3 separate regions of the Homo sapiens genome follow, and regions 1 and 2 are each linked to region 3. The links come from fine-mapping of genetic effects on gene expression. A gene starts in region 3. Each other region holds a variant in brackets. All regions are shown on one strand. Distances are from middle to middle.

The links.
Region 1: its variant is fine-mapped to the expression of TNFRSF8 in whole blood (TOPMed, PIP above 0.99).
Region 2: its variant is fine-mapped to the expression of TNFRSF8 in whole blood (TOPMed, PIP 0.96).

What each region holds. Positions count from the first base shown.
Region 1 is chr1:12,101,012-12,110,985 of GRCh38, reverse strand. TNFRSF8 (TNF receptor superfamily member 8) reads right to left here. Exons shown (of 15, transcript NM_001243.5): 4 at 6,455-6,607; 5 at 1,330-1,420; 6 at 782-945. Among named protein-coding and RNA genes, the nearest start is that of TNFRSF8, 43 kb to the right of the region's middle. The variant G/A (reference allele first, on the strand shown) is at 5,646.
Region 2 is chr1:12,145,428-12,155,401 of GRCh38, reverse strand. No RefSeq gene overlaps it. Among named protein-coding and RNA genes, the nearest start is that of MIR7846, 17 kb to the left of the region's middle. RefSeq lists enhancers at 6,851-6,980, 8,834-8,913. The variant T/C (reference allele first, on the strand shown) is at 4,773.
Region 3 is chr1:12,057,673-12,067,646 of GRCh38, reverse strand. TNFRSF8 (TNF receptor superfamily member 8) reads right to left here and starts at 4,344. Exons shown (of 15, transcript NM_001243.5): 1 at 3,986-4,344. The coding sequence starts at 4,048. RefSeq lists silencers at 3,952-4,081, 4,669-4,901.

The sequences.
Region 1 (9,974 bases), 43 kb before region 3:
AAACAACCCAAATATTCAAAAACTGGATAAACAGAGCTCGGCATATCTACGCCATGGAGGGCTATTCAGTAATAAAATGGGACTAGGTTGGGCGCGGTGGCTCACGCCTGTAATCCTCCCAGCACTTTGGGAGGCCGAGGTGGGCGGATCACCTGAGGTCGGGAGTTCGAGACCAGCCTGACCAACATGGTGAAATCCCATCTCTACTAAAAATACAAAGTTAGCCAGGCGTGGTGGTGGGCACCTGTAATCCCAGCTACTCAGGAGGCTGAGGCAGGAGAATCGCTTGAACCCAGGAGGTGGAGGTGGCAGTGAGCCGAGATTGCGCCACTGCACTCCAGCCTGGGCAACATGAGCGAAACTCCGTCTCAAAAAAAAGAAAAAGAAAAATGACTGAGGGTCGACCCTTCGCCATGGAGACCAGGAGGGCATCAGATGGACACGTGCAGAGGCTGGCCAGCTGAGTCGCAAGTGTCACAACAGCAGAGTGGGACCCATTTCCCTCTGACAAACCAACGTAGAGGGAAATAGAGGGAGAGATGGGGCACGGGTGTCCGGCACAAGGCAGGCCCTCTGCACTGCTGGCAAATGAATGAGCCCTCTGGTGTCTACCTCTGCCCCTCAATGCTTTCAGCCCTAGATCATACCTTACCACCGTCTTCTCTCCCCACCAGGAAAAGACCACAGATCACTGCCCGCCTGCTCCAAACACCCCCACTCATGGGCCATCCACCAATCGAGCACCCCAGGGAGACGACCCACAGCTTCATGGGGAAATTACCTGGATCTGAACTAGGCCTTCCCACAGAGGAGGGAGAGTCGGGAGCCCTCGTCAGTTTAGAAGCAGCTTCCTGGGCGAGGCGGGTGCCCCCTCTTACAGGCATGGTGCTGGCACTGGAGGTTGCTGGGGACACCGGGGTGGGCTTGGCCTGGGGGATGGTGCCACTGGGGAAGAAGCCAGAGATGGGACTGATAATTCTGCCAATGGGGCAAGGGAGGCCTGTGCTCACGAGTAACAGTTTCCACAGAGATGGGGTCCCAGGCCCTTGGCCCACTGCCTCTGGCGGGCCCACTGTAAGCTCCTGGGAGCAAGGCCTGTGTTTTCTAAGCCCTGTGGGTCTCCCATGTGCTCAGGGCAGGGCTGGGCACACCCTAGGGCCTCAAATGATCTGAGGGGCTTGGCAGAGAGGCACCCCAAAGTGCTGACACCATGGGCTGAATCCCGCTTACACCCCCAGCCCAGTTGTACCATGGGCGTCCTGTGGGGTGGGGCAGCCTCATCTGAAAGCCAGCTTGGGGGAAGAGGAGGAGGCAAAGCCAGGGAGTCACCTGGAGGGTTCCTTGCAGTTCTCTGGGCTGGCACAGGCAGGGCTGACCCCTGGGGAAGCCGGCTCACAGACCGTGTTCTTCTGCGCCGTGCCTGCAGGGGGGACAGCAGTGCCTTCAGAATCAGTGTTGGGGACCCAAAGTCTCCCGGAATACACCCTTCACTACCACAGGCCAGAGTCGGAGATGGGGCCCTTGGAAAACACAGCAGTCATCTGGAGGTGGCACCCGCCTGGCACCCGTTCCCCTTCAGAGTAAAGCAGCCTATCTTTCCCTGGGGAATTACTCTCCCTCTGATCTCAGCATCTGTGGTTAGGGGTTGGGACCGACTGAACCCCCTTTCCCGAGTGGCCATGAGACCAGGCTGGACCAATCAATCCGTTGCATTCCTCTGGCCACGATGAGCCAGTTCAGGGACGGACATGTGACCCAAGCCTGTGAGGTAGAATTTAAAGATTCTGGTTTGGGATTTAAAGGTTTTGGTTTTGGATATTAAAAATGTAAGAAAGGGAAGCTGTCTTCCCACTGGCGCTGGGCAGAGCTGCTTGTAAGTATCTTGCCGATGAACCAACAGAGAGGGAAATAGAGGTGAGAGATGGGGCAAGATGGAGCCCTGGATCCAGCCATGCCTGAAGCTTCTCAGAGCTATCCCCAGACTTTTAAGCTACATGTGCTAAAAAATTGGGGATTTTGCTACATGCAATCCAAGGAGTCCTGAAGAATGCTGGACAGAAGCAGAGTGGAGAAGAAAACACACACATCGTCTAGCCAGTGCCCCTCAGTTTGCCTGCTATGTCCTAACTGTGCCAGGAAAGTCCATTTTATTTACTTGTTTATTTATTTATTTGAGACAGAGTCTTACTCTGTCGCCCAGGCTGGAGTGCAGTGATGCAATCTCAGCTCACTGCAACCTCTGCCTCCCAGGTTCAAGCAATTCTCCTGCCTCAGCCTCCTGAGTAGCTGGGATTACAGGTGCCTGCAACCACGCCCGGCTAATTTTTAGTAGAGACAGGGTTTCGCCATGTTGGCCAGGCTGGTCTCGAACTCCTGACCTCAGGTGATCCACCCTCCTCAGCCTCCCAAAGTGCTGGGATTTCAGGCATAAGCTGCCGTGCCCAGCCCAGTCAAATGACTATAATCATACACTCTTCACCAGGCTGTCGTCAGGATAAACAGAAGAGTGCACGTGAGGTGCCCATCACATTGCATGACATATGGTAAATGCTATGTCCTTACACCCATCTGGACTCCCATCCCAACACTTAGAAGGTGACCCGTATGTCGCCAGGCACGGTGGCTCACACCTGTAATCCCAACACTTTGGGAGGCCGAGGTGGGCGGATCATGAGGTCAGGAGTTCGAGACCAGCCTGGACAACATAGTGAAACCCCATCTCTACTAAAATTACAAAAAATTAGCCGGGCATGGTGGCAGGTACCTGTAATCCCAGCTACTCAGGAGGCTGAGGCAGGAGAATCACTTGAATCCGGGAGGCAGAGGTTGCAGTGAGCTGAGATCACACCATTGCACTCTAGTCTGGGTGACAGATCGAGGCTCCATCACAAAAAAAAAAAAAATAAAAAAATGGTGGCCTGTATGTGTGGGACTTCGCTCTGAAGCTTTCCGTGGAGGTGAGCGCGAGCAATGCTGACCTCTCGTGTTCTGTGGCATGGTGGAGTGATGACACCTAAGCTTAGACATTTCCTGCTCTGTCTCCGCGGGCAATTTACCTCCCATCTCCGGACCTCGATTTCCACACCTGGAAAATGGGGCTAATACTGTCTGTCTTATGGAGACGTGAGAATTTCAGGAGAGACAGCCAGTGAAGGCTCTTAGCGTGGGGCTTGGCTGACTGGAGGCAGAAACTGCTTTCTATTTTACAGCTGGAAAAAAAACAACAACCCCGGAGAGCTGCCCCATGGGTGAGTCCACAGGGGACCCCAGAGATTAACCAGGGTTTGGCAGCTGAGATTAGAACACTTCTAAAACAGTGCTGTCCAACAGAGATATGCGAGTCACACAGGCCAGCTCAAATATTCTGGGAGCCACACTTTAAAAGGTAAAAAGAAATCAGTGCAATTAATTTTCATTATTTAACCCAGTATATCTAAAATATTACCATGTTTGCAGGCAATCAATATAAAAAATAATTAATTATATTCTTGTTTATACTAAGTTTTCGAAATCCAGTGCATATTGTACACACAGCACTTCTCAATGCAGACGTATCTGCATTTTTTTTATTTTTTATCGGATTTTTTTTTTGAAACAGAGTCTAACTCTGTCGCCCAGGTTGGAGTGCAGTGGCACAATCTCAGCTCACTACAACCTCCACCTCCCGGATTCAAGCAATTCTCATGCCTCAGCCTCCCAAGTAGTTGAGATTTCAAGCACCCGCCACCACACCTGGCCAACTTTTGTATTTTTAGTAGAGACGAGGTTTCACCACATTGGCCAGGCTGGTCTCAAACTCCTGACTTCAAGTGATCCGCCTGCCTCAGCCTCCCAAAATGCTGGAATTACAGGTGTGAGCCACCGCACCCGGCCCCTAGCTGCATTTTAAGTGCGTGGCCACGTGCCACGGGCCAGGGGCACTGCATTGGGCAGCTGGGGTCCAGGGGCAGCAAAGGGAGGCCTCTGGCGCCGCTGTGTGGCAGTCTCAGGAACACTGCCCAGACAGTCCCTCCAGCAGGAAGCCTTGGCTGGAACAACTGAACTCAAGATGTTTTTCACAAAGATGCAGAAGTTTCTGAGCTGGAAACTTTTGGGAAGTTTGGCCTTTTTGGAGAGGCCCCCAAGGCCTTCAGTTATACCTCCTCATTTGAGAGATGGGGAGACCGAGGTCCAGAGGCGGGTGGGAACATGCCCCACAGTTGCAAATCTTTGCAAAATCCTAGGTATCTGCTGCCCAGTCCACTCCAGCACTCTCCCCTGCTTATGGGTGGAGGCCTCCATCATTCCTTAGCAGAGCGCTCTCCCCCGACCCTGGAATTTGACCAGATTTGAACTCCACCCCCCCACCAGCTCGGAGCTCCCTGTCAGGTGTCCCCATATCTTAATTCAATGAATCTCTATGGGGAGCAGGTGCCATGCCTAGCATTTGATCAGGCAGTGGGGAGATGTTGATGGACACCAGGGGCATGGTCTTTGCCCTCAGGAAGCTTCCAGCCAGGGAGGGAGACAGACATTGATCAAGCCAAGAGACAGAGAGAGGTATGTATCCACATTTGCAAAGGACACAGTGCTACCAGCTTCCCTAGTGAGAGGCCAGGGAAGGCCTCTTGAGGAAGTGGGGTGGAGAGCTCAGGGCTGAGTAGGATTTGACTAAGTGAATGGGGAGGGAAGGGTGTCTCCGACAGAGAGAACAGCACGTGCAGAGGGCGGGTGGGACAGAGAAGCACACACGTCCTCCAACCTGGAAGAAGGGCAGCGCAGGTGGAGCCCAGAGAGTGAGGGCTTGGTGCTGAGAGCTGAAGCTGGGAGAAAGGAGGGGGCTGTGTTGGGATCACATCCTGAGACTCTGATTCTGGGAAGATGGCTTAGACACGTTTTCCCCTCATCCTCCCGCCAAGAACCGCTAAAAGCCCTGGACATTATGTACAAAATAAATGTAAGAAGGCTCTGAAACATGAAGAGAAGAAGGCAGGTCAACTGGGGGCCTTGGGACCTGAAGGACACCGTGGTGAGTCCCTGGAGTTTTCTTTTTTTTTTTTTTTTTTTGAGACGGAGTCTTGCTCTTGTCACCCAGGCTGGAGTGCAATGGCTCAATCTCAGCTCACTGCAACCACCGCCTCCCAGGTTCAAGTGGTTCTCCTGCCTCAGCCTCCTGAGTAAATGGAATTACAGGGCACCTGCTGCCAGGGCTGGCTAATTTTTGTATTTTTAGTAGAGATGAGGTTTCACCATGTTGGCCAGGCTGGTCTTGAACTCCTGACCTCAAGTGATCTGCCTGCCTTGGCCTCCCAAAGTGCTGGGATTACAGGCGTAAGCCACCACACCTGGCCTTGTGTCCTTATCTTTAGAGTAACAGGAAGATACTGAAGCATTTCAGGTATATATCCGTGTGTGTGTGTGTGTGTGTGTGTGAGACAGAGAGAGAGTGAGTGAGTGAGAGAGAGAGAGAGAGAGAGAGGATCAGATTCAGATTTGGTCTTGCAAGGGTCATTCTGGCTGTCTGCCATGGGGGCTGTATAAGAGAAGGTATTCGGGGTGAGAAGGTGGGGAAGATAATTGGAGGCCAAATCTACAGGACTCGAGGATGGGCTGGCTGTGAAGGATGAGGGAACGAGGGAAGGATAAAAGGGGCAGGCAGTGGTAGC[G/A]ATGGGGGTGACTGCCAATCCCCAGGTTTGCACAACAGGGCATGGGACTCCAGAGAAGGACCTGGTTGGGGGAGGGACCACAGGCACTTTGTGGCACTTTTCTCCTCAGTGGACAGTGGACACAGGGCTGCCTCTGAGCCCATCTCCCCGGCTCCATACAGTCTGCAACTGCGGCAGCCACTCTGTGCTGTGCTCCAAAGCCCACCCACTCCTCATGCCTCCCTTCTGGAAGATGGTCCCAACTCCACCCAGACAGGTTCTGTGGCCCATACCCCTTCTCTGGTTAAAAGCAGCCCTGACACCTTGTACTATCAGAGAAGTAGAAGTCAGAGAGGTAAGAAACTTGTCTGAGGTCACACGATAAGTTGGAAAAGAAACCCAAGTTTCTCAAGTCTTGAGCCTGGGGCCAGATCTCTCAGCACCTCTAACTCCCAATGCCCTGAACCTGAAAGGGGGAAGCCAACCCCAATCTTCTAGGAAACTCCCAGGACAGAGACTTGAGGTTCCCTTCTTGTTTATGGGGCATCAGATAACTTCTGCCTTGAGCCTCAAACCAAAGCAAGACCTCCTCCAGCCAGGTCTATGCCAGGGGACAGCAGGGTCTCTCTGCACCTGGAACACAAGGTGGGGGAGGGCAGCAGAAGGGCTGGGTGCTGGGTACATCCCTGGCCCATCGCCAAAGGAGACATGATCTGTCCAACAGTCTCCGGGAAGCGGGAGGTCGGAAGTCAACAGTGCACTGGGGTGGGCGGAAGGTGCAGCAGCAACAGCATAGATCTCTGTCCTGAGTTAAGGGTGGGGACACTGACCTGGGAACTTGACAATCATCCCTGCCGGACAGACAGAATGGAAGAAGCAGCGGGCACAGGAGTTGACGGCAGACGTGGAACAGAACATGCCGGGTCGACATTCGCAGACACGGGAGGAGTTCCATGCACACGGCGTCTTCTCCACGAGGTCGTCTAAGGGACACAGACAGGGGTCACAGAGGGGAACAGAAGGAAGGCGTCTCTCCAGATAGCTCTTGAGATGAGGGGGAGAGGGCAGGTGCAGTCCGCAACGCAGCCTCCGCCTCCCAGCTCAACCCCCTGGTGACCACTAAAATTGGATTAAAAATTAAATTAATGTACCAATTTTTTAAAATGCAAAAAAATAAAAAAAAGACATGGAGGAAACTTAGATACATATTGCTAAATGAAAGACACCAGTCTGAAAAGGCCACACACTGTCATTCCAACTACATGACATTTCTGGAAAAGATGAAACTATCGAGACAGTAAAAAGATCAGTAGCTGCCAGAGGTTCAGGGGGAGGGAGAGGTGAACCAACGAGCTCAGGACACATTTAGGGCAGTGAAAATATTCTGGATGCCACGGTGATGGTGGGCACGTGGTCATCATCCGTTTGTCTAAAGCCCTAGAATGGGCAACACAAAGAGTGAACCCTGCTGTAAACTATGGACTTCAGTTAGTAATAATAATGCATCATTATCAGGTCATCAATGCTAACAATTGTGCCACACTAATGCAAGGTGTTCGTGACAGGGGAGGCTGGGTGCAGTGGCTCACGCCTTTAATCCCAGCACTTTGGGAGGCCGAGGCAGGAGGATCATTTGCCCTCATATGGCGACATAGTGAAATCCCATCTCTATAAAACATGGGCAACATGGTGAAATCCCGTCTCTACAAAAAAAAAATACAAAAATTAGCCAGGCATGGTAGCACATGCCTGTAGTCCCAGCTACTTGGGAGGCTGAGGCGGGAGGATCGCTTGAGCCCAGGAGGTTGAGGCTGTAGTGAGCTGTGATTGCACCACTGCACTCCAGCCTGGGCAAAAGAGTGATACCCTGTTTCAAACAAAAAATAGGGGAAACTGTGGGAGATTGGGAAGGGGGTTGAGGGTATATAGGAACTCTGTATTTTCTGTTCAATTTTCCTGTAAACCTAAAACTGCTCTAAGAAATAGTTTATTAATTTTTTTTTTTTTAAGACAGAGTCTCACTCTGTCACCCAGGTTGGAGTGCAATGGCGCAATCTCGGCTCACTGCAACCTGGGTTCAAGTGATTCTCCTGCCTCAGCCTCCTGAGTAGCTGGGATTACAGGCACACACCACCACGCCCAACTAATTTTTTGTATTTTTATAGAGACGGGGTTTCACCACGTTGGCCAGGATGGTCTCAAACTCCTGACCTCAGGTGATCCACCCGCCTCGGCCTCCCAAAGTGCTGAGATTACAGGCGTGAGCCACTGCACCCAGCCAGAAATAGTTTATTAATTTTTTTAATGGACAAAGGACTGGAATAGACATTTCTCTAAAGAAGATACACAGCTGGCCAATAAACACATGAAAAATGTCCCACACCGTTAGCCATTAGGGAAATGCAAGTCAAAATCACAGTGAGATACCACTTCACAACCACTAGAATGACTCGAATCAAAAAGACAGATAATAACAACTGCTGGCAGGAAAAGCAGGAAATCACAGGTTGGTTAACAGACATAAAAAGTACAGCTAGGCGGGGAGTGGTGGTTCACACTTGTAATCCCAGCACTTTGGGAGGCCGAGGTGGGCAGATCACCTGAGGTCAGGAGTTTGAGACCAGCCCGGCCAACATAGTGAAACCCTGTCTCTACTAAAAATACAAAAATTAGCCAGGTGTGGTGGTGCACACCTGTAATCCAAGCTACTGGGGAGGCTGAGACAGGAAAATCACTTGAACCCGAGAAGTGGAGGTTGCAGTGAGTTGAGATGGCCCCACTTCACTCCAGCCTGGGCAAAAGAGCGAGACTCCGTCTCAAACAAAACAAAACAAAACAAAAATAGCACTGGTAAAACTAATAATTAATGTGTAACAGGCCTGGAGACCAAGAAGGGGCAAGCTTGGCAGATCAGAAACGAAGACAACTCCCCGAAATACGGAAGGCAGAGGACAGATAAGATCAGAGTGAAGGAGACCACAGCCCAGAATGCAGCCAAGGGGGACTCTCTGAAGAAGGGGGAAAGGCTCTGGATAGCTCCTCATCACTCATGCCACAGAGCCAGAGGCCACGCGTCTTCCCGCAAAGAGACTGTTGCAGCCCCACCTGAGCCCCATTGCCCTCAGAGGTGGGTTTCAGAAGCCCCATTCGCAGACCACCGGCATCATGAGATATGATGTGCACAGAACTAGAAGTCGCCAAACATCAGAGGAAAACCAGCGCCAAGGAAGAGGAGCTCTGAATGCAAAGAGCACTAACACTCAAGGAGGCAGAAAAGAGGGAAAACAGAACAAAACATTAGAAATGATACCTTCACGCACCACAGAGCAACATTTCAGTCAACAATGGATGGCGTACATGATGATGGTCCCACAAGATCATAATGGAAGCCGGGCGCGGTGGCTCACGCCTGTAATCCCAGCACTTTGGGAGGCCGAGGAGGGCGGATAACCTGAGGTCAGGAGTTCAAAACCAGCCTGGCCAACATGGTGAAATCCCGCCTCTCCTAAAAAAAATACAAAAATTAGCCAGGCATGGTGGCGCATGCCTGTAATCCCAGCTACTTGAGAGGCTAAGACAGGAGAATCGCTTGAACCCAGGTTGCAGTGAGCCGAGATTGCGCCATTGCACTCCAGCCTGGGCAACAGAGCAGGACTCCATCTCAAACAAAAAAAACAATAAAAGAGATTATAATGGAGCTGAAAAATTCCTATTGCCTAGTGATGTCATAGCCACGGCAATGTCGTAGCACGTGCGTTACTCCCATGTTTGTGGAGATGTTGGTATAAACAAACCTACTGCCCTGCCAGTTGTATAAAAGTGCTGCATAGCACATGCAATTATGGATAGTATGTAATACTTGATAATGATCATAGAAAGCTATATTGCTGGTTTACGTACTTACTGTACTATACTTTTTATCATTTTTTTTTTTTGAAACAGGGTCTTGCTCTGTTGCCCAGGCTGGAGTGCAGTGGCATGATCACAGCTCACTGTAACCTCAACTTCCTGGGCTCAAGCCATCCTCCCACCTCAGCCTCCTGAGTAGCTGGGACTACAGGCGCATGCCACCACACCCAGCTAATGTATTTTATCTTGTGTAGAGATGGGGATCTCACTGTGTTGCCCAGGCTGGTCTCAAACTCCTGGCCTCAAGTGATTCTCCCAGCCTGGCCTCCCTAAGTGCTGAGACTGCAGGCATCAGCCACCAAGCCGGCCTTATCATTATTTTAGAGTGTACTCCTACTTATTAAAACAAAAGTTAACTGTAATACAGCCTCAGGTAGGTCCTTCTGCAGGTATCCAGAAGAAGGCATTGTTATCATAGGAGACGATACTCCATGCATGTTA
Region 2 (9,974 bases), 88 kb before region 3:
ATGCGCTCTGAACACAAGCCTTTCTCCAGGGCTGGCCCTTGGAAAAGGGTGAATTATCAGGAGCCTCTAGCTCCATCCTCCATTGCTCCATCACCGGCAGTCTATGCTCACCCTGAGCCAGCCAGCCCTAGGTCTGCCGGCAGCCCAGCCAGGCTGCAAAGGCCTCACCTGTCCTATCTCCCTCTGGCCTCTCCTAAGGCAAACAGCTTTCCTGAGCCTGTCTTCACCTCACCTTCCCCAGATGCTTCCTCCAAAGCCCTCCCCAGAGGTCTCCCACCTAGACCCCCAGGCAGTTCAGATACAAACAATCCCCCACAATGAAACAGGACCCCTTCCCATTCCTGATGCTGAATTGTCGTCTTTAATGGCTCAGCTGCAACCCCACTGCCTCCTTAACGCCCTCCAGGATCTCTCCAGCCCACGGGGTTCTCTTGCCCTGGCTGCAGGTGGTCTGGCATTGGAGAAAAAGCACTGGAATGAGCTAAACCAAAGATTCTCAAAGACACTTCCAGCCATGAAACGCTTTCAAATGAAATCTTAGGCTGGAGAGGTAACAGCTTTCTCAGATTGCTGGTTCTCTGGATCTAGATCCCAGCTCTAGGGCAATAGATCAAGACCCTATCTCTAGAAAATTCAATAAATAGGGCCGGGCGCAGGTGGCTCACGCCTGTAATCCCAGCACTTTGGGAGGCCGAGGTGGGTGGATCATGAGGGCAGGAGATCGAGACCATCCTGGCTAACACGGTGAAACCCCATCTCTACTAAATATACAAAAAAAAAAAAAAAAATTAACCGGGCATGGTGGCGGGCGCCTGTAGTCCCAGCTACTCAGCAGGCTGAGGCAGGAGAATGGCGTGAACCCGGGAGGCGGAGCTTGCAGTGAGCCGAGATCACGCCACTGCACTCCAGCCTGGATGACAGAGCGAGACTCCGTCTCAAAAAAGAAAAAAAGAAAGAAAGAAAATACAATAAATAAATAAATGATTGAAGATAATTTTAAAAAACTACTCAGAAAGGAGGGAAGAAACCAAAATGTTTAAAGGAGTTTCATGGATGATGGGATTGTGTGCAATTTTTTTTTTTTTTAAGGAATACTGATTGTTTTACTTTTGTTGTTGTTGTTACAAGGTCTTGGTCTGGCTGCATCACCCAGGCTGGAGTGCAGTGGCGTGATCTCAGCTTGCTGCAAACTCCGCCTGCTGGGTTCAAGTGATTCTCGTGCCTCAGCCTCCCAAGTAGCTGGGACCACAGGCGCGCACCACCATGCCCAACTAATTTTTGTATTTTTAGTAGAGATGGGGTTTCACCATGTTGGCCAGGCTGGTCTTGAACTCCTGACCTTAAATGATCTGCCCATCTGGGCCTCCCAAAGTGTTAGGATTACTAGCATGAGCCACTGTGCCTCGCCAAGATTGTGTGTAATTTTTATTATATTTATCATATTCCTTATACTTCGTTTCTTCTTTTATTCATCTTTTCCATTTATAAAGTTTGTTTATTTTTATCTTTAAAGTACCAGCAAACTGGGTGCTTGTGCTGAGGGCCACGGATTCTCTGTGTGACCTCAGGCACATCTCTCGCCTTCTCAGGCCTCAGTTTCCCCATCTATACTCTCAGAGGGAGGGGCTGCATGAGGCTGTGAGCCCTGGGAGTCACATACCACTCGTGCACATCATCCTTGCCCCGTGCACTCGGTTTCCTCCAGGCCATGCTGCCCCCTGGGACCTACCAGCCCAGCCAGCCCACAGAGGCATAAACCAGCACATTTTTTTCTCATTAGTGAGATTTCAGCTCAGAGCAAGGGCAGTCAGGGTAGAGGCTTAGAGCAAGGACAGAGAAGGGAGTGACACAGTGAGATGGGCAGTTTCCTGCTAGACTGGACGAGACACAGCTCTGGGCCCATTTCCTTGACGCACTACCCAGCCCTCCCTAGGAAGGCAGCACGTGATACCGGCCCTCTGCTCATCAGTAAGGAGCATGAAATGCTCACCACGTCACTGACCTCATTTCCCCCGCAACATTTCCCCTCCCCAATTCAAAAGAGGAAGAAATAAGTAGTTTTTCCCTGGTGCAATTTCCCAGTCTTCACTTATTCAGACTTTTACGAGTATGTGTGCCTACTGCTGCCCCAGTGAGAGCTGGGCAGGGCTGGGCGTGGATGAGTCACAGTGGGCACACTCCCCGCAGGAGCTTGGGCAGGGTGGGCAGGCGACTTAGAAAAGGGACCAAGGCACCTTGGCTGGAGTGTCCTAGGGGCTTCTTGAAGTAGCTGGCAGTGATTCGGCCACCTCTCATTTGTCCTTCAGGTGAAGTTGGTCTTGAGGCTCTCACTCCCAAGAAACTGGACCTCCTTCCAACCCAGGCTTGTCCTGCCTGCCCCGCAGACTTACTGAGCACCTACTGTATGCCAGACGGAGCAGCTGCTGCCCCTCTGCCACCAGATCGAGATCCTGCTCCTAGACATGTGCCCCAAGGAGGAACCCAGGAACCTTTAGCTCCTAGGAATGAGTGGTAAATTTTCAAACACCAAGAAGCCTAGCAAAAAAAAGGGCTGCTTTAGACAGTTGGGGTATATCAAAAGGAGAAATAGCATCAACTTTGCCATCACCTAGACCTGGGTTCAAGTCTCTGTTCAGGCCATTGACTGGTACGCAACCATGACCTTGGACAAATCACTTTACCTCCCTGAGCCTCCATTTCTTCATCTGTAGAATGGGGATAAATAGCCTCTGCTTTACAGGGGTGCTGTAAGGATCTGAGATGGAGACTCTACAGTGCCTGGCATCTAGTAAGTGCTTAATGAGTGCAGACCCAAAACGTGATGGAGGTCATGTATTCTGCCTTTCCAGAATGGAGCCCAGGTCCCCTAGGGTACAGGAGAGGGTTTCCCTGAGAAGTTCCCAAAGTGCCCAGCCTTGCTTTTCCCCTTCACCCTGGAAGGAAACCCCCTTGGGCTCCAGTTCCCCTGCAGTCCTCCACCCGTCCTGAGGCTGTTGCAACCTCCCACCAAGTAGCCGGCTCAGCCCTGCCAGCCTACCTCCCCAGCTCCTGTAGAACAATTTCCGCCCATGAAATTCTCTCCATCACCTTGCCCCCTTTCTTCTGTAGAAACCTAGAGATGCAAATGCAAGGATGGGGCGATGTCTACCACAGACTCATGATCATAACTACTCACTTCCCCCTGCACACCCTGAATCGCTACATTCTCCCAGACCTTTGTACAGCAGGTGCTACATCCCCAAGCCCTGGCTACACACCTCACCACACTGAGGGCCTACACACCACTTTCTTTTTTTCTTTACAGCAATTACCACCAGCCAATGTTATCCCAAATACTCTTTCTTGTCACTCTGCAGAGGGCAGGGCTGTGTGTCCCCAGCACCCCAGCACGGAGTTTGAGCTTGACAAATATTTATTGAACAAATTAATGGATGAAATTAATCCTTACAACATCTCTTTGGGGTAGGTGCTCTTATTAAACCCATTCTACAGAGGGGAAAGCAGAGACCTGCCTCCATCTGGGCTAGGTGCCATCCACTAGGGTCATGAACCCCAAGCTGCTCTCCATCAAAGCAAATATCATGCTCTAGGCCATGACCAGACTCTAGGTTGGTCTCCCAGTTGGACTGTGACTCCCTGAGAGCAGTACTGTATATCCCCGCCACTGCCCCACTTCACTGTGTTCCCCAGCGCCAAGCACAGTGCCCAACACATAGTAGGTGTTACATACAGATCTGTTGCTTGAGTGACTAAATGAGTGGCTGTATGAATGAATGAATGCATTTCTTCAGAGATATTTTTTGCAAGACTTCTAGAACTTGGCCTCCAGTCCCCCTTCACAGTCAGTGCTGTGGGAGCTTGGAGGTCCTGGGCCTGGGTGTCCTGGAAGGGTTTTTGGAGGAGGAGGAGAAAGATGAGGTTGGAAATTCAGGGGTTGGAGCGCTGAGCAGAGATTTCATGATGAGGATATGCCCTCTGTATTTGGTGACTGAGCGGAAACAGTCGGGTCTCAGGAGAGGTTTAGATATGGGAGCTGTGGAGGTAGCAGCAAAGCTGGATTGGCAGACATTGGCATGTAGGCACTAGGGAGTCATAGAAGGTTCTGTGAGGGAGAGGCCTGGCCACAGCTGGGCTTTGGAAAGGAAAGGTGGGATAAAAACCAAGAGCAAATTCCATTCCCTGTGCATTCACTGAGCCCCATGGATGCCTGCACAGTGTTCTACAGGGTCTGGGACTCAGGGCTGGGGCCTCAGCACAGTGGTGACCTCGGCCTGAGCCACAATGGAGCAGCATGGCCAAGTGTGTGAGGACGCAGACTCCAGCCAGGTGGCCTGGGTTCAAAGCCTAGCTGCGCCACTTAGCAGCTGTGTGACCCTGGGGAACTGGCTTAGCCACTCTGCGTGTTGGTTTCCTCATCTGTAACATAGGGGTAATGTAATAACTACTTCCTAGTGCACTGTGAGGTTTAAGTGAGAGCACACGAAAGCCTCAAGTACAGCTCTTATCATCTTTCTTACTAACCTGTGACTCCATGCATGGCAGGAATAAAGCCTCTTCAACTCTATTGTCAAAGCCCAACCCAGATGGGCACAAAGAGCTTCTCAGGGAACTTTCGATGCATGAACTTGGCCCAGAGGACCCAGGGTCACCCAGCGAGTGCCCCGGTATTCACCAGGAGGTCTTCTGCACAGGGTGAGGAACCCTCCCTCAGTACGTGCAGAAGCTGTATTTCCTGAGTGAAGTGTAATTGCAGTGAAAAACAACATCCCTCC[T/C]GACAGCCTGTACTTGCATAATCTACCCACAACTCTATGTGACTTCCTGACATGGTTCTGTGCAACCCAAGTTGGGGGCCCCATCCTGCCCTGGAAGGTCCCAGACCCTGCCCTCTTCCTCAGGAGAGGCCTGGCAAGACCTCTCAGAGCCTTGATTTCCCTATCTAAAAACTAGATAGGGCCTAGTTTGTATGGGTACCAAGCTCAGATGTTCTCTAATCAGACAGATGTGAGCTTGCTTTCCAGTCCTGCCACATTCTGACTGTATGGGTCCCTGAATGCACAGGTCAGCTGCTCAGTCCAGAGCTCACACTCTGGAGACAGACCAGCTTGGATCCAAATTCCAGCCAGAGGAACTTGGGATTCCACCAGGTTATGTAGCTTCCTTGAGCCAACTCCAAGGACAATAATGGCAAAATTACCGAGAGGCTAAAATGAGACAGTATGTGAAGTGCTCCTGCTGACACATAAGATCTCGAGATTCTTTGACACTCCTCCTAATGAGGGGTGGGATCTGTGTCCCCTCCCCTTGAGTCTGGGCTCTGTGACTACCTGGAATGCAGCAAAGGGGATGCAGTGCCAGTTTCCGGGGTCAAATTTTATGACGCTGGCAGTTTCTACTTCCTGCCCCCGGAGTTGTTGGCTCCAGGAACCCAGCAGCCATGCTGTGAGGAAGCCCAAGAAGCTCCACAGAGAGAAACTGACAGCCAGTACCAATTTGCCAGCCCTCTTGGAGGTGGATTCTCCAGCTCATCTCATCACCCCCGCTGGTACTATGTGAGCCGAGATGCACCTCCCCTGCTAAGTCCAGGCCACATTGCAGATTTGTGAGCAAAATTAATGACCATTGTTTTAAGCTATTAAGTTTTGAGGTGATTTGTTATGTAGCAAGAGATGACTGGAACAGTTACATCAGTTACTGGTCATTTAACACTTCTTAAAAATGGGGACATGTGTGCTCATCTATAAGGTCCCTCTGAGGTCACATGACAATGGAGGTAAAATGCTTTGGCATTAAGTGAATTCTGAATTAACGATTTCCCTGCCCCCATGCAAGATCAGCTACATAATTTGTAGAACTCCATGAAAAATGAAAACACAGGGCCCCTTGCCAAAAATTATTCATCACTTTCAAGATGGCGACAGCAGAGCATTAAACCAAGCCCAGGGCCCTTCTGAACCTGGGGCCCTCTGACTGCACGGATCAGTAGCTTGTGAAGCTGCAGAAGCCCAGCTGATGGGATATTTTTGTCTACTCTGTTTACTCTTGCAAAGCTGCCTTGTAAGTAAGAACCCAACCCTCTCACCACAGTTACTTTTAACATCAATTTTTTCTTTAAAGGAAGAATGAAAATCAGCATGTCATCTTTACTGCTCCCTTGGACTAGACAGTGACTTTCCCCTACCCCAGCCCCAACTGACAGCTACAGTTAGAGCTATCTCCATCACACAGCACCAAGCTGGGACCCTGGGAAAACTGCTTTGCCTCTATGGGGCTCAGTTTTCCCATCTGTAAAATGGGAGGCTTGTTCTTGATCGTCTTCCTTCAGGGAGCCTCAGGTGGGGCAGTGAGCAGGATATGAGGTGTTACTGGGGATGGAAAGGGCAATTCCACTCTCAGGCAGTTCTCCCCCAGAGATTCCCTGGACTCAACCCAGCCCCGAGTCTCCCTGGACCTCAGAATCACACGCCTGTAATCCAGTACTTTGGGAAGCCAAGGTAGGAAGATTGCTTGAGCCCAGGAATTCAAGACCAGCCTGGGCAACATAGAGAGACCTGTCTCTACAAAGAAAGAAAAAAAAAAATTAGCCAGTCATGGTGGCACGTGCCTGTGATCCCAGCTACTCGGGAGGCTGAAGCAGGAGGATCACGTGAGCCCAGGAAGTTGAGGCTACAGTGAGCTGTATTTGTGCCACTGCATTCCAGCCTGGGTGACAGAGGAAGACCCTGTCTCAAAAAAAAAAAAAAAAAAGAAAGAAAGAAAGAAAGAAAAAAAAAATCACACACACCTTTGAGGAAAGCTGTGTCAAGGAAGGAGGCCCTGGCTGGGTTAGCTCTGTGTCCTTCCTGTCCGGTCAGAGCAGTCAGAAAGCCACACCCAGCCTGGAGTTTGACCTTGGGCAGGTTACCCTGCCTCTTGCAACTGTCCCTGCCTTCCCATAAAGGGAGGAATAAAATCAGCCTCTATTCTATCTCTCAGTTGTGGTGACTTGAAGATGAAAGGAAACTTATCTAGAAGGCATAGTGCCAGGGGATGACCACGATATGAACACAACCCCTGACCACAGAGGCAGCCAGGCCACCTGGGCATGGGGAGGGATTTAGAATCACAAAGTTGGGGGTTGAACTCCAGCTCTGGGACTTCCCAGCTGTGTGGCAGTGGGCCAGTTGCTTCGCTCCCCCCCACTCCCCGAGCCTCAGTTTGTAAAAGGGAGTGCTGCCACCCAGCCTATCTACTGTCCAGGGTTCTATTAGGAAGCCCAGATGTACAAAGAATGCGGCCTAGGCGAACTCTCAGCTCTTAAGATGCTGCTCTTGATGGCTGTCATTTACTGAACATGGCATACGTGCCCAGACTGGACTTCCACAGTCCCTCTCAGCCTTATAGTTCCTTTTCTTTTTTTTTTTGAAGACAGAGTCTCGTTCTGTCACCCAGGCTGGAGTGCAGTGGCACGATCTCGGCTCACTGCAACCTCCGCCTCCCAGGTTCAAGCAATTCTCCCACCTTAGCCTCCCAAGTAGCTGGGATCACAGGCATATGCCACCATGCCTGGCTACTTTTTGTATTTTTAGTCGAGACGGGGTTTTGCCATGTTGCCCGGGCTGGTCTCGAACTCCTGACCTCAAGTGACCCACTCACCTCGGCCTCCCAAAGTGCTGGGATTGCAGGCGTGAGCCACCGCATCTGGCCCCATTAGGTCCATTTTGCAGACCAGAAAACCCACATTGAACGCACATAAGGGCTTTGCTTGGGACCAAGCAGCTGGGAGCTTGTCGAGCCGGAAGCCACAGCTCCATGCCACCGTCATGAAATGGCCACTGCCTCCATGAGGGCTAAAGGGTAAAAAGCACAGGCCACCGCTGACCCTGTGATACTGAAATGATCCCTCTGCCTCATGACCGGGAAAACAATCACCACACCAAAACACAAACAAAGGCCTCCAGGCTTCCCAGGGTTTTTCAGTTTGGTTTTTACTCTCTGGAAGATACCCAGAGAAAGGGGGAAGCTAGACCGGCAGACTCCTAACCCTACCCATAGCTACAATCATCACCAGGAATGCTGTCTTAGTTCTTTCTGAGAAAACCCATCTAACTGCTTCCTGGCTGCCAGCAGCTGCTGCCTGTTTCCCCAACTTCCCTCCAAAATAGGTTAAAACAACCTTTGCCGCCCCTGGTTTGGCCTTTCTCACTGATTGCTGAAATAATACCAGGATGTTTATTGTTCTACTAGGAAGAAAACAGAAAGAAACATAGACCAGTACTTTTATGATAAAATCTAGGTGCCTAATCACAATGGCCCACCAGGCCCTCCTCCCCAGGCCTTCCCCCCTCACCTCCTTTTTTCCCTCGCCCACCGTGCCTCTTCCACCACTGTGTTCTTCCTGAAACTCGAGGCAGGAGTGTGCCCACTTCAGCTCCCTGCCTTCCAGACCTCGCTGGCTTGTGACATCACTCAGGCCAAGTTCAAAGGGCACCTTCTCAAAGAGGCTTGCCCTGACCACCTAGCTAGTGGTGGCCCTCCCCTCCCACTCTGCCACAGTACCTGGCTCAGACTCCTTGTGGTTCACAGCGTGATCTGACTCTGGAATGACCTTGTGTACTGATTTGATGACGCCACCGTCTGTCCCGTCCACCAGACACAGGACCCACGAGAGCAAGTCTGTGCCCCACTAGTCCTCAGCAGCTAGACCCTTTAATTGAGGAAAGCCCTCGAACAGTAATGTGGTGCAATCTGGAATGTGCTAGAACCACGAGTGAGATGTCCCTCCGGAGGGACCCGCAGCACTTCGCCGACATGCCCAGAGTTACAGACGTCGAATAATGAGCCAGTCCTATGACTGTGATCTGAAGGGTTCTTGGGGTAGCCCACAGAACAAGAAGAGGCCTGCCCACTGCGGGGCTTCCCACAGCAAGTTGGCCCCAAGGGTGGCTAGGTTCCCAGGCTGGCCTGAAAGCTCTGATTAACCTTGATGGGCTGAATTCTGCAGACATAGGAAGGGCTCGCTCTTGACAAGCGGCCACCAGGCTGGAATAAGGACAGAACCTGCCACTCAGCACAAGCCACACACCGAGTGGCATGTCAGGGAAGCCCCACAACCCCGTCAGGTAGAGACTGACACCCCCATTTCACAGACAAGAAAACTGAGTCTGAAAGAGATCATGGAACATAGCCAAGCTCATGCAACTGATAAATGGCAGAGCTGGGATTCGAGCCTGTGTGTGACCCCGCAGCGCCATCACCATCCGCACGCTGCTGTTGTGTCTGAGCTGCAGAGAATGGCAGGCAAGCCTCTCTGCCCTGTGCCTGGCTCACACCCATGGCCCCAACATTGAACACCTGCTCCCCTGGGTCAGCCAGGGGCAAGGGTTCCAGGGTGTTTGGCCAGCATGGGGTGCTGGCTTAGGAGGAGGTGCCTGGCAGAGGGGCCTGGTGGAGGGTGCAGGGGCCTGAGGTGTCCTCAGCAGCTTCTCCTTCAGCCCAAGGAGCCCCCCTTGAAGCTGAACAGTCTCGCCTTGACTAAGCTTTTCTCTTGGGCCGTGGCTGTGAATCTGATGTCCCCACATATTCTGGCCCAAGCAACCCCCACCCCACACTTGCCCCCCCACTGCAGAGGATCGAGGAAGTGGGGGGAAGAGAGAAGGCACCCGAGGAACTGTGGCTGGAGAGCCGCCTCTCATCCCCACACAGGTTTTCATTTCTACTTAGCCCAACCAATCAGTGCCCAGTGACCATGGGACAAAGATGACCAAGACCCAGCCTTGGGTCTTTTACACCTCACTGTTGGAGGGTGAGGTCGTGATGGAGCGAGAGACGCTCTAGGGAGGTCCCCTCGTTCCGTTTTAGGGACTGACCCGAGCCGTGGAGATTCTGTGAACTGTAGAATGGTTTTTACCACCTACAAAAGTGCCTTGGGAAACAATGGCTTTTCTTTGAAGGCAACAGCTTCCATCTGATACTTACCACTTGCTGTCCCTCTCTGA
Region 3 (9,974 bases):
GGGAGTGCTGGCTCACTGCAACCTCCGCCTTCTGGTTTCAAGCGATTCTCCTGCCTCAGCCTCCTGAGTAGCTGGGATTACAGGCGCCTGCCACCATGCCCAGCTAATTTTTGTATTTTTAGTAGAGACAGGGTCTCACCACGTTGACCAGGCTGGTCTTGAACTCCTGGCCTCAAGTAATCTGCCTGTCTTGGCCTCCCAAAGTGCTGGGATTACAGGTGTGAGCCACAGCGCCCGGCCCCAGCTAAGATACTTTCATGAGAACCTTCCTGGTCCCAGCCTGCACACTAACCCAGAGCAAAGATGCTTACATCTGGCTGGAATTGGGGGTACATGGATGTGGGAGGAAGGCTTGTTTAGCCTTAGCACTGGCAAGGAACATGATGTTGGGGAATTTCTAAGTCTACAGAGTTCACAGGAAAGCTGGGGCTTCCCCCGCCCCGCAACCCCACCACATGGTGCCTGGATGAAAAGGATGGAGCTATGGGGGAATAAATTTTTCTCTGCAGATATGCACCAGTTAATCCTGGGTCATATTACAAAAAAACACAATTGGACAAGACAGTGATACGAAGCATCAGAGGCCAACTCTCAGATGGTGCCAGCTAGCAAGAAAGCATTCCTGCCTCAGAATACCAGGCGAAAAATGATGGCGTCTTGGGAAAAATCAAATAGAGATGAAAAAAGAACTTCAGGATGGGCACGGTGGCTCACGCCTGTAATCCCAGCACTTTGGGATGCCGAGGTGGGAGGATCACTTGAGGCCAGGAGCTCGAGACCAGCCTGACCAACATGACGAAACCCCATCTCTACTAAAAATACAAAAATTAGCTGGGTGAGGTGGCAGGCACCTATAATCCCAGCTATTCAGGAGGCTGAGGCAGGAGAATCACTTGAACCCAGGAGGCAGAGGTTGCAGTGAGCTGAGATTGCGCCACTGCACTCCAGCCTGGGAGACAAAGTGAGACTGTCCCAAAAAATAAAAAAAAATTTAGGCCGGGGGCGGTGGCTCACGCCTGTAATCCCAGCACTTTGGGATGCCGAGGTGGATGGATCTCCTGAGGTCAGGAGTTCAAGACCAGCCTGGCCAACATTATGAAACCCCATCTCTACTAAAATACAAAAATTAGCCAGGCATGATGGCAAGTGCCTGTAATCCAAGCTACTAGGGAGGCTGAGACGGTAGAATCACTTGAACCTGGGAGAGGGTGGTTGCAGTGAGCCAAGATCGTGCCACTGCACTCCAGCCTGGGCAGCTGAGGGAGACTTCATCTCAAAAAAAAAAAAAAAAATTTTAAACTCAAGGAAATTCAAGCCCTAATTTGGGATTTTTTTTTTAAAATAACGAGCTTCCCGAACCTTTACTGGAAAAAACAGAAGTGGGAGAAGGCTTGAGGGGCAAAAAGGAGTACTGTGTTGGGCAGGTAGTCCCTTCCCCAAGGACTCCCTGACTCCTGCCAAGAAATGACCTAGTGCCTGAGCCCAGAGAGATGCTCAGCTTCCCCGGTAGGCGAGAAATGCAAATTAAGGCAACAAGGATATAACCCTTTTCACTAATCACATTGAGAAAAATTAAAATGCTGATAAGATCAAATGTCGGTTAGGATGTGGGAAAGTTACTACTCTCTTGCACTGCTAGCGGGAGGGTAAATTGTCCAGCCACCCTGGAAGGCAGTTCGGTGGTGTCTTTTAATTTGAATGCATTTTCGCCCTGCAACCTCAGTATTCTCTTCTCAGTCTCTTGTCTAGGAAAGAATCACAGACATTTATTTCCAAAAGCATCCATATAGGGCTGTGCACTGTAGTAGAGAACAAAGAAAGAAAGAAAGAACAATGGTGGCAACCTTAGCACCCATCCATCCAGGACATAAATAAACTATGAAACATCCCATTTGGCAAAAGATCACATAGCATTTTAAAAGATAGGCAGAGGATCTGTAAGTTTCAGCATGGAAAGCTCACCAAGATGCCTCATAGACATTATAAAGCCAAATGAAGAACCATATGTACTGTAGGGTATAGTATATGGAAAACTATATATATGTCTATTAAAACAATATAAATATGGACATGCATTTATAAAGGTCTGCAAAGGAAACACACCAAATCAATTATGGTGGTTATATCTTTGAAGGGATCAGGATGAGGCGGTGTCAAAAGACTTGGCTTTATCTGTAGCGTTTACAGTTTTGCTTTGAGAATATATTTATATATTCCTTGTGCAATTAAATATATAGTATTTTTATTTTAAAAAGGGTATGGGAGGCTGGGTGTGGTGGCTCATGCCTGTAACCCTAGCACTTTGGGAGGCCGAGACGGAAGGATCACTTGAGGTCAGGAGTTCGAGACCAGACTGACCAACATGGTGAAACCTCATCTTTACTAAAAATACAAAAATTAGCCGGGTGTGGTGGCACATGCCTGTAATCCCAGCTACCTGGGAGGCTGAGGCAGGAGAATCACTTGAATCCGGGAGGCAGAGGTTGCAGTGAGCCGAGATCGAGCATTGCACTCCAGCATGGGCAACAAGAGTGAGACTCAGTCTCAAAAAAAAAAAAAAAAAAAAAAGGTTTGGTATGAGAGTTCAGGCTGTAGTGAGTTATGATCGCACTCCAGCCTGGACAACAGAGTGAGACCCTGTCTCTAACATTAAAAAAAGTGGAGGGGGCTTCACTCTACAGAAAGGAAGCACATGAGCTTCAGCTGCCAAACCAAACCAGCAAAGCCCCCCAAGCACCTCTCACATCTCTTCCTTCCCTTCATCTCCCCAAGACCTTGGCACTCCAAACTCTTACCTTCCCCCAGGTGAGGGCTTGCAGAGCTGGGACAGGGTGTCTCTAGCCAGGGCTTTGTCCCCTCTGCCCTCTTGGGGGGAAAGGGGGAATACCTCACATTGCCCATTGGAAATGGAAGAGGGCATAGTTCCTCCTTTGCTGCATAGTTCCTCCCTCCTGCCTAAAGCCCACTCTGCCACTCTCCTCCCACTGCCTAAGGTTCAGATGACTAGAATTGATCCATAGCATGGAGTCCTCTCTTCCTGTAGGATTAAAGGGGAACTGGGTCTTCCCTCTCCCCCACCGTGACCCACCGCTGGACTAACAGCCTGCTCCTTCCTTTCCCTCTGTATCATTCAGCAGGCATCCACTCGCACCTACTATGGTTCTATGCAGGGGTCCACCGGGGTCCTGGGTCAGCTGAGGGCCTCTCTCTCCAGCAGCCCCTGGGCTCCGTGAAACACGCCTGGTTACTTTGCATTCTCCCCACAGTGATTAATTTGGCGCTGGCCACTGGTAAGTGCTCAGTTTTCCTAAAGCAGTCCCCAAACTCAATTCTGAGGCAACCCACCATAGACTTCAGCCCCACCACTGACCTTCTTCCAGGGGCAAATGCCCACCACGTGCTCCAGCGAATTCAATCCACAGCGTTGCTTTGCCGGACGCGGATTGGGGAAGCTAATCCCGGTGGTCCTGCACCCTCACCCCACTCTCACCCACAGCCAACTCTCCCTCCTTTCCTTGACCCTCCAGCCAGTGGCCAGCTTAGGAAGGGGGCAAACGGGACCGCGCACACAACAGGGTAGAGCGCGGACGACCAACCTCCCATGGCTAAGGGAGGCCCCATCTGGCCTGCCCACTACTCCCACGGCCTCACCTGATCTGCCCAGGACCCCGACGGGCCCGCAGGTAGGCGGGCTAAAGAGCGCCTCCCGCGTATGGCAGTGCTCTCAGTCCAATTCACACTGAATGAATGAATCAGTCCCAGCCATCGCGGGGTGAGAAGGAGGCGCCCCCCACCACTAGCCCTTCAGCCAGCCTCCCACCTGTGGGTGCTAGCATATTCCGGTGTTCCTGCTTGTCACCCGCGCCCCCTCACTCCAGCTGGGCAGGGAACGGGGTGAGGAGTGTCCTCCCTTGCGTCCCACGCACCCCACACTGTCCGGGCTCTGGACCGCCGGCACCTCCCCAGGCGCCCGTCACCCGCTTACCTGTGGGAAGGCTCGTAGCGCCCCCAGGAACAGCAGTCCCAGCGCGGCGAGGAGGACGCGCATCCCCGGGGCCGGACGTGAGGTGGCCTGGCGGCCGGCGCCCACCTGGGAAGCGGGGGAAGCGCGCGGCGCCCACGTGCGGTCCCGGCGGTTCTCAGCCGCGCGCGTGGACTTCAGGCTCCAGCACACTCCCGCCGCGGCCACCTAGTCCGCACCCAACGCACGCCGCGAAGTCACTTCAAAAGTGGTTGTTCCTCCGAGGTTTCAGCCTTAGTTCTCCCGTATCAAATTGGTTCCAGGAACACTTAGCTACAAGCAGCGAAGAAAAAAGGGGGCAAACACGTGCAGAGATGACTCAGGAAAAGGCACACTAGGAGACGCCTCCCTTAGCTGTTTGAATGGCCCGCCCCGGATTTGACGGAACTAGTGGTCCTGGCTCTAGGGAGTGTGCTGCCCGCCGCACCTGGGCTGCGGGGAGCGGAGGCAGGCAGCTTCTGGCCCTGGAGGTGGGGACTCACAGGATATTAGGAGGCCCCAAGGGGGTTCCAATGCCCCCACCTCCACTCCTGCCCCAAGAAACGGTGAAATGTGAGTAGTTTCCTGTCCCTGACACGATCAGCCAGGACCTTCTCCCATGCCCTTGAGATTCTTTGGAAGGGACAACTGGCCTAGGGAGACTGCAGAAAAAGCAACCATCACCCACCCATCCCCATTCATAAGCATTTGCTGTAAAATGAATCAGTGAGTGGATGATAAATTGGTGGATGGATGGATGGATGGATGGATGCATAGGTGGATGGATGGATGGATGGATGGATGGATGGATGGATGGATGGATGCATAAGTGGATGGATGGATGGATGGATGGATGGATGGATGGATGGATGGATGCATAGGTGGATGGATGGATGGATGGATGGATGGATGGATGGATGGATGGATGCATAAGTGGATGGATGGATGGATGGATGGATGGATGCATAAGTGGATGGATGGATGGATGGATGGATGGGTGAGCAGCAGGTGAGTGGGTAAATGGGTGGGTGGATGGGTGGATGGATGGATGCATAGATGGATGGATGGATGGATGCATAGGTGGATGGATGGATGGATGGATGGATGGATGGATGCATAAGTGGATGGATGGATGGATGGATGGATGGATGGATGGATGGATGGATGGATGCATAGGTGGATGGATGGATGGATGGATGGATGGATGGATGGATGGATGCATAAGTGGATGGATGGATGCATAAGTGGATGGATGGATGGATGGATGGATGGATGGATGGATGGATGGGTGAGCAGCAGGTGAGTGGGTAAATGGGTGGGTGGATGGGTGGATGGATGGATGCATAGATGGATGGATGGATGGATGCATAGGTGGATGGATGGATGGATGGATGAGCAGCAGGTGAGTGGGTAAATGGGTGGGTGGATTGGTAGATGGATGGACTGAATGTTGGAGGAACTGATGGATGGTATAGATCATTTTATTTCCCTGAGGCCTGACCCTTTAGAGTTTTCTTCCTGGAGGAGGCGGCTGGCACTCTCTCCTAACAGAAATGATTCAAGCCTCCTCGTACTATGTTCTCATTTGCTGGTGAATGATTTTCCCTTCCAGTGCTTCCCCATCCCCTGGGTTTTCTCTTTGCTCCTTTTATTCCACATTCCGTGTGTCTGTGTTGAGCATCTGCTGGGTGGGCCACAGGTCAAGGGTTCTTTTGACTGATTTTGTTTGGTTTTCAGATGTGAAAGCCAAGGCTCAGAAATAGGCAGGCAGTCCTAGGTGCTCTAATTAAGGGTGGGCCAGTTATTTTCCCTGAGCCCAGAATAGCCTAAGGATACTCTGGCTTCTGTGTCTACCTTGATCTGTCCTGCGAGGTACCAGGCCTCCATCAGGTGAAGGCCCTATAGGGTAGGAGTGATAACCTCCCACCAGGAACTTCCCAGCAAGGTCTCCACAACTGACCACTCCATGCTCAACCCTCCTGGGGCTGCTGGACTCCACTTGGGAAAACTGCTCCATCATGCCCCTTCCCAAGAGACCCACTTCCAGACTCTCCTCTGGATGTACCAGGCCCAGTATCTTAGGCTGTTTGAGCTGGGACTATGTTAAACAATGAGGTAAGCAATTATGGAAGTGACCTGCCTGTGATAATGACAGAACCAGACAGGGACAGGAGGAACGCAAGACACCTGCTTCCCAGTCCAGAGCTTTCTACTACAAAAGTAGAAAAGCTGGCAGCTGGGTGACATGGCTCATATCTGTAATCCCAACACTTTGGGAGGCCGAGGTTGGAGGATCACTTGAGCCCAGTTTGAGACCAGCCCGGGTAACGTAGCAAGACCTCATCTCTATTTTTTGTTTAATTAAAAAAGAGAGAGAGAGAAGGGCTGGTGTTTTGAATAAATAAATGAACAACAGCATCAAAATAGCTTGCACAAGGAGAAATACAAATAAAAATCAATTACAAGTTTTATAAGTTTAACCTTTTTAGTAATTAAAGAAATGCAAATTCAAGCAACCTTTGATAACCTTTTAGATCTATACAATCATCATTTTTTTTTTTTTGCTTTATAAAAACAATTTTGGTAAATCCAACCCCAAAGTTGTGGTGAGACCAGAATACTCATTCATACTCTGCTGGTAAATGTTACAACCCTTTTCAGAAAGCAGTATGGCAATTTTTAGCAAAAGCCAAAAAAAAAAAAAAATGTGTACTACTTGTGAGTGGCTCAGTAATTTCACCTCAGTGAAGAAAAACTAAGGAAATAATTTAACTGGAAAACTAGAAAAAGAAAAAAGAAAACTATACAGTAACATTTCCTTATATATTATTTATAAATTTTTGAAATACTCTGAGATTCACAACAAGAAATGATTACGGAAATTGTGGTACATCCATTTAATGGAATATTGCACATCCATTAAAAAGGATAAATCTATAGATGTTGTGGAAACTTGTCTCTCCCTCATATCCTTCCCTCCATGGATTTCCAAAGAGACCTTTCTAGCACACACATCTCACCAAGACACTCCCCTGTAGAGAACCCTTGCGGAAGTATGGTGTGTGTTTTGGCAGAGGACCACGTAGAAAATTATATTATTCATTTAATGATAACAATAACAGCTACCTTTGAGTGCTTATTTTGTGCTAAGAGTTTTCAGGCATTGGTTTCTTGTATCCTCATGAAAACCCCATGAACAAGGTCCTACTTTTATGCCCATTCTGCAGGAAAGGAACCCCTGCAGTGGCTCCCCTGGGTCAGAGTCACCCAAATGCAAGGGTGCACAAGTCTGCTCACAGCCTGGCAGGGGCTGACTCCTCCCTTGTGCCTTTTTACTTCTCCTGGACCTATACTCCAGCCAAATGTGCAGCCTTCTCACCCCTGCCAGCCTTTGCCCACGCTGGCCTCCACCTGGGACGCACACAGACTCCTGATCATCTTCCTAACCTGTTCCAATGCCACCTCCTCCTTGTTGCTTTCCTGGCAGTGTCTCCTGTCCCCCAGCCCTCTTCCCAGTCAAAAAGTGGTTTCTGTCATTTTTTGTGCCGCAATTCTAGATCTGATCTCATCATGTCATAACCATAATGACTGGTTCATGCATCCCTCTGCCCCAGGAAACTGTGTACTCCTGAGAACCAGAATTCCCCCAGGGCGCCCAGGAAAGTAGCTGACACATGGCTTAAGTGGAGGGAAGGCACATTTTGTGGCCAGGGAGCCAGCTGGATCCCAGGGGGAGATGGGCTGGTAGCAACCAAGGAAAACAGCCATTCATGGGACTCTTAAAAGCAGGCAGTGGATAGAGCCCCCGGGTGCCCTCGGCAGGTTTCAGGTGGTATGAAAGTGCTGTGAAGAGTAGAAGGGGAAGTCCCTAGGCTCTGTGCAAGGCACAGCAGCAGTCCTTGTTGTGGGGTCGTGGGGCCCTCCAGAGCAAGCTGTGGAAGGAAGCCAAGCCCGAGGGGCTACAGGAGACTGGGGAGCGAGGAGCGCTTGCTCACACAGTCTCAGCTCGGTGGGCTTCTTGGAGGAAAGGTGAGGAAGGTGAATGCAGTAGGAAGCCATCCAAGGGGAATTGGGAATCTGTGTCCCCAAAGTGATGCTGAGCAAGACACAAGGTCCCAACTTGGTTCAGGAAATTCAGGGACTTCCTCCAACAGCTGGGAACCCGAGTCCCAAATGGCCCCAAAATACCCTTAGCAGATAAAGGGTTCTTTCTGGCCCAGGCAGCAGCTGGCAGGTAGGAGGCTGGAAATCAGAGAGGGGAGGCTGGGGCCTTTCTTCTTCAATAGGTCCAGGTGCACCTTTTCTTTCTTTCTTTTTTTTTTTTTTTGAGATGGAGTCTCACTCTGTTGCCCAGGCTGGAGAGCAGTGGTGCAATCTCGGCTCACTACAACCTCCCCCTCCCCAGGTTCAAGCGATTCTCATGCTTAGCCTCCCGAGTAGCTGGGATTACAGGCGAGCATCACTGCACTCAGCTGATTTTTGTATTTTTAGTAGAGACAGGGTTTCACCATGTTGGCCAGACTGGTCTTGAACTCCTGACCTCAAGTGATCTGCATGCCTTGGTCTCCCAAAGTGCTGGGATTACAGGCAAGAGCCACCGCGCCCAGCCGCAGGTGCACCTTTTCTGAGCAACTTTCTTGGGAGCCTTGGTAGCAGTAGGACTCTCCATTAGGCTTCTCTGGGTCACCCTTGGCCTCCACCAGTCCTAATCGGCAGGACCCATGTCAGGCTCCCTCCAACTCACATCCCCAGATCTCCCTGCCCTTTTGAGGCACCAACATTAGGGGTTCTCAGCTGCCTGGGTGAACCCCAGCAATGCACACCCACAAGCATGACACCCCTAGACCAAGCCTGGTTGGAAACTAAGCAAAGGGGCACTGGCTCTCCAGAACTAGGTTTGTTGTGCCCCTTCCCATGGGCAGGAGGGAAGGCTGTGAGGCCCTCGGGGATGCTCTTAAAGATTCTGCATAGTAACATTAACAGTGTCATTCATTGAGCTCCTGCTGTGTACCAGGCCCTTGGTCAGACATTTAATCCTGGCATCAAGATTTCAAGTCAGTATTGCTATCCCCACTTTATAAATGAACTGAGGCTCAGAGTAGTTAAGTCACTTGCCTGAGGTCACACAGCATGAGGGTGGCAGGGCTAGGATTTACTCCAACCCTGTCTGACTCTGAAGCCTCAGCTGCCTTCTTTTCCCTCCCCAGGCCTCTCTCACCCTTGCTTTCCCCAGGAGAAAGAGCACTGATGTATAAGTCCTGGTCTGGCCATGTGACTTTGGGAAGTCATTTCTCCTCTCTGAATGTATTATTATCTATTGCTATGTGCCTCAGAACCTAGTGGCTGAAAACAATAAACATTATATTGCGCTGTTTCTGTGAGTCAGCAATTTGGGAGAGACTTGACAGGGTGATGCTGGCTCAGGGATTGCCATCAAGATGTGGGCCAGGGCGGCAGTCATCTGAAGGCTTGAGTGGGGCTGGAGCATCTGCTTCCAGGATTAGCCACTCCCACGGCTGTGGGTAGGAGGCTTCAGTCCCATGGGGCTGCTTGAGTGTCCCCACAACATGGCGCTGGCTTCCTCCAGAGCAAGTGACCCCAAGTGAGCAAGACAGAAGTCACAATGCTTTTTATGAACTAGCTTCAGAAGTCACATTTTGTCATTTCCACAGTATTCTGTTGGTTATACAGGCTGGCTCTCCCCAGTGTGGGAGCGGACTGCACAAGGGCATGAATACCAGGGGCTGGGGAACACTGGGAGCATCAGTTTCCCCTTCTGCCAGATGTGTGTTGAAGCATGACTGGGCTGCCCTCTGAAGGTTGTAATGGGCCTTGAATAAAATATGGACATAGAAAGCTCTTGGAAATGCAAGAAAGACATGGAAAGGGCTCTACTTCCCTTTGCCCCCTCCCACTGCCTATCCAGGCCCCTGCTATGGCCCCAGACCTCCCATTCCAGAGCACAGCTAAAATG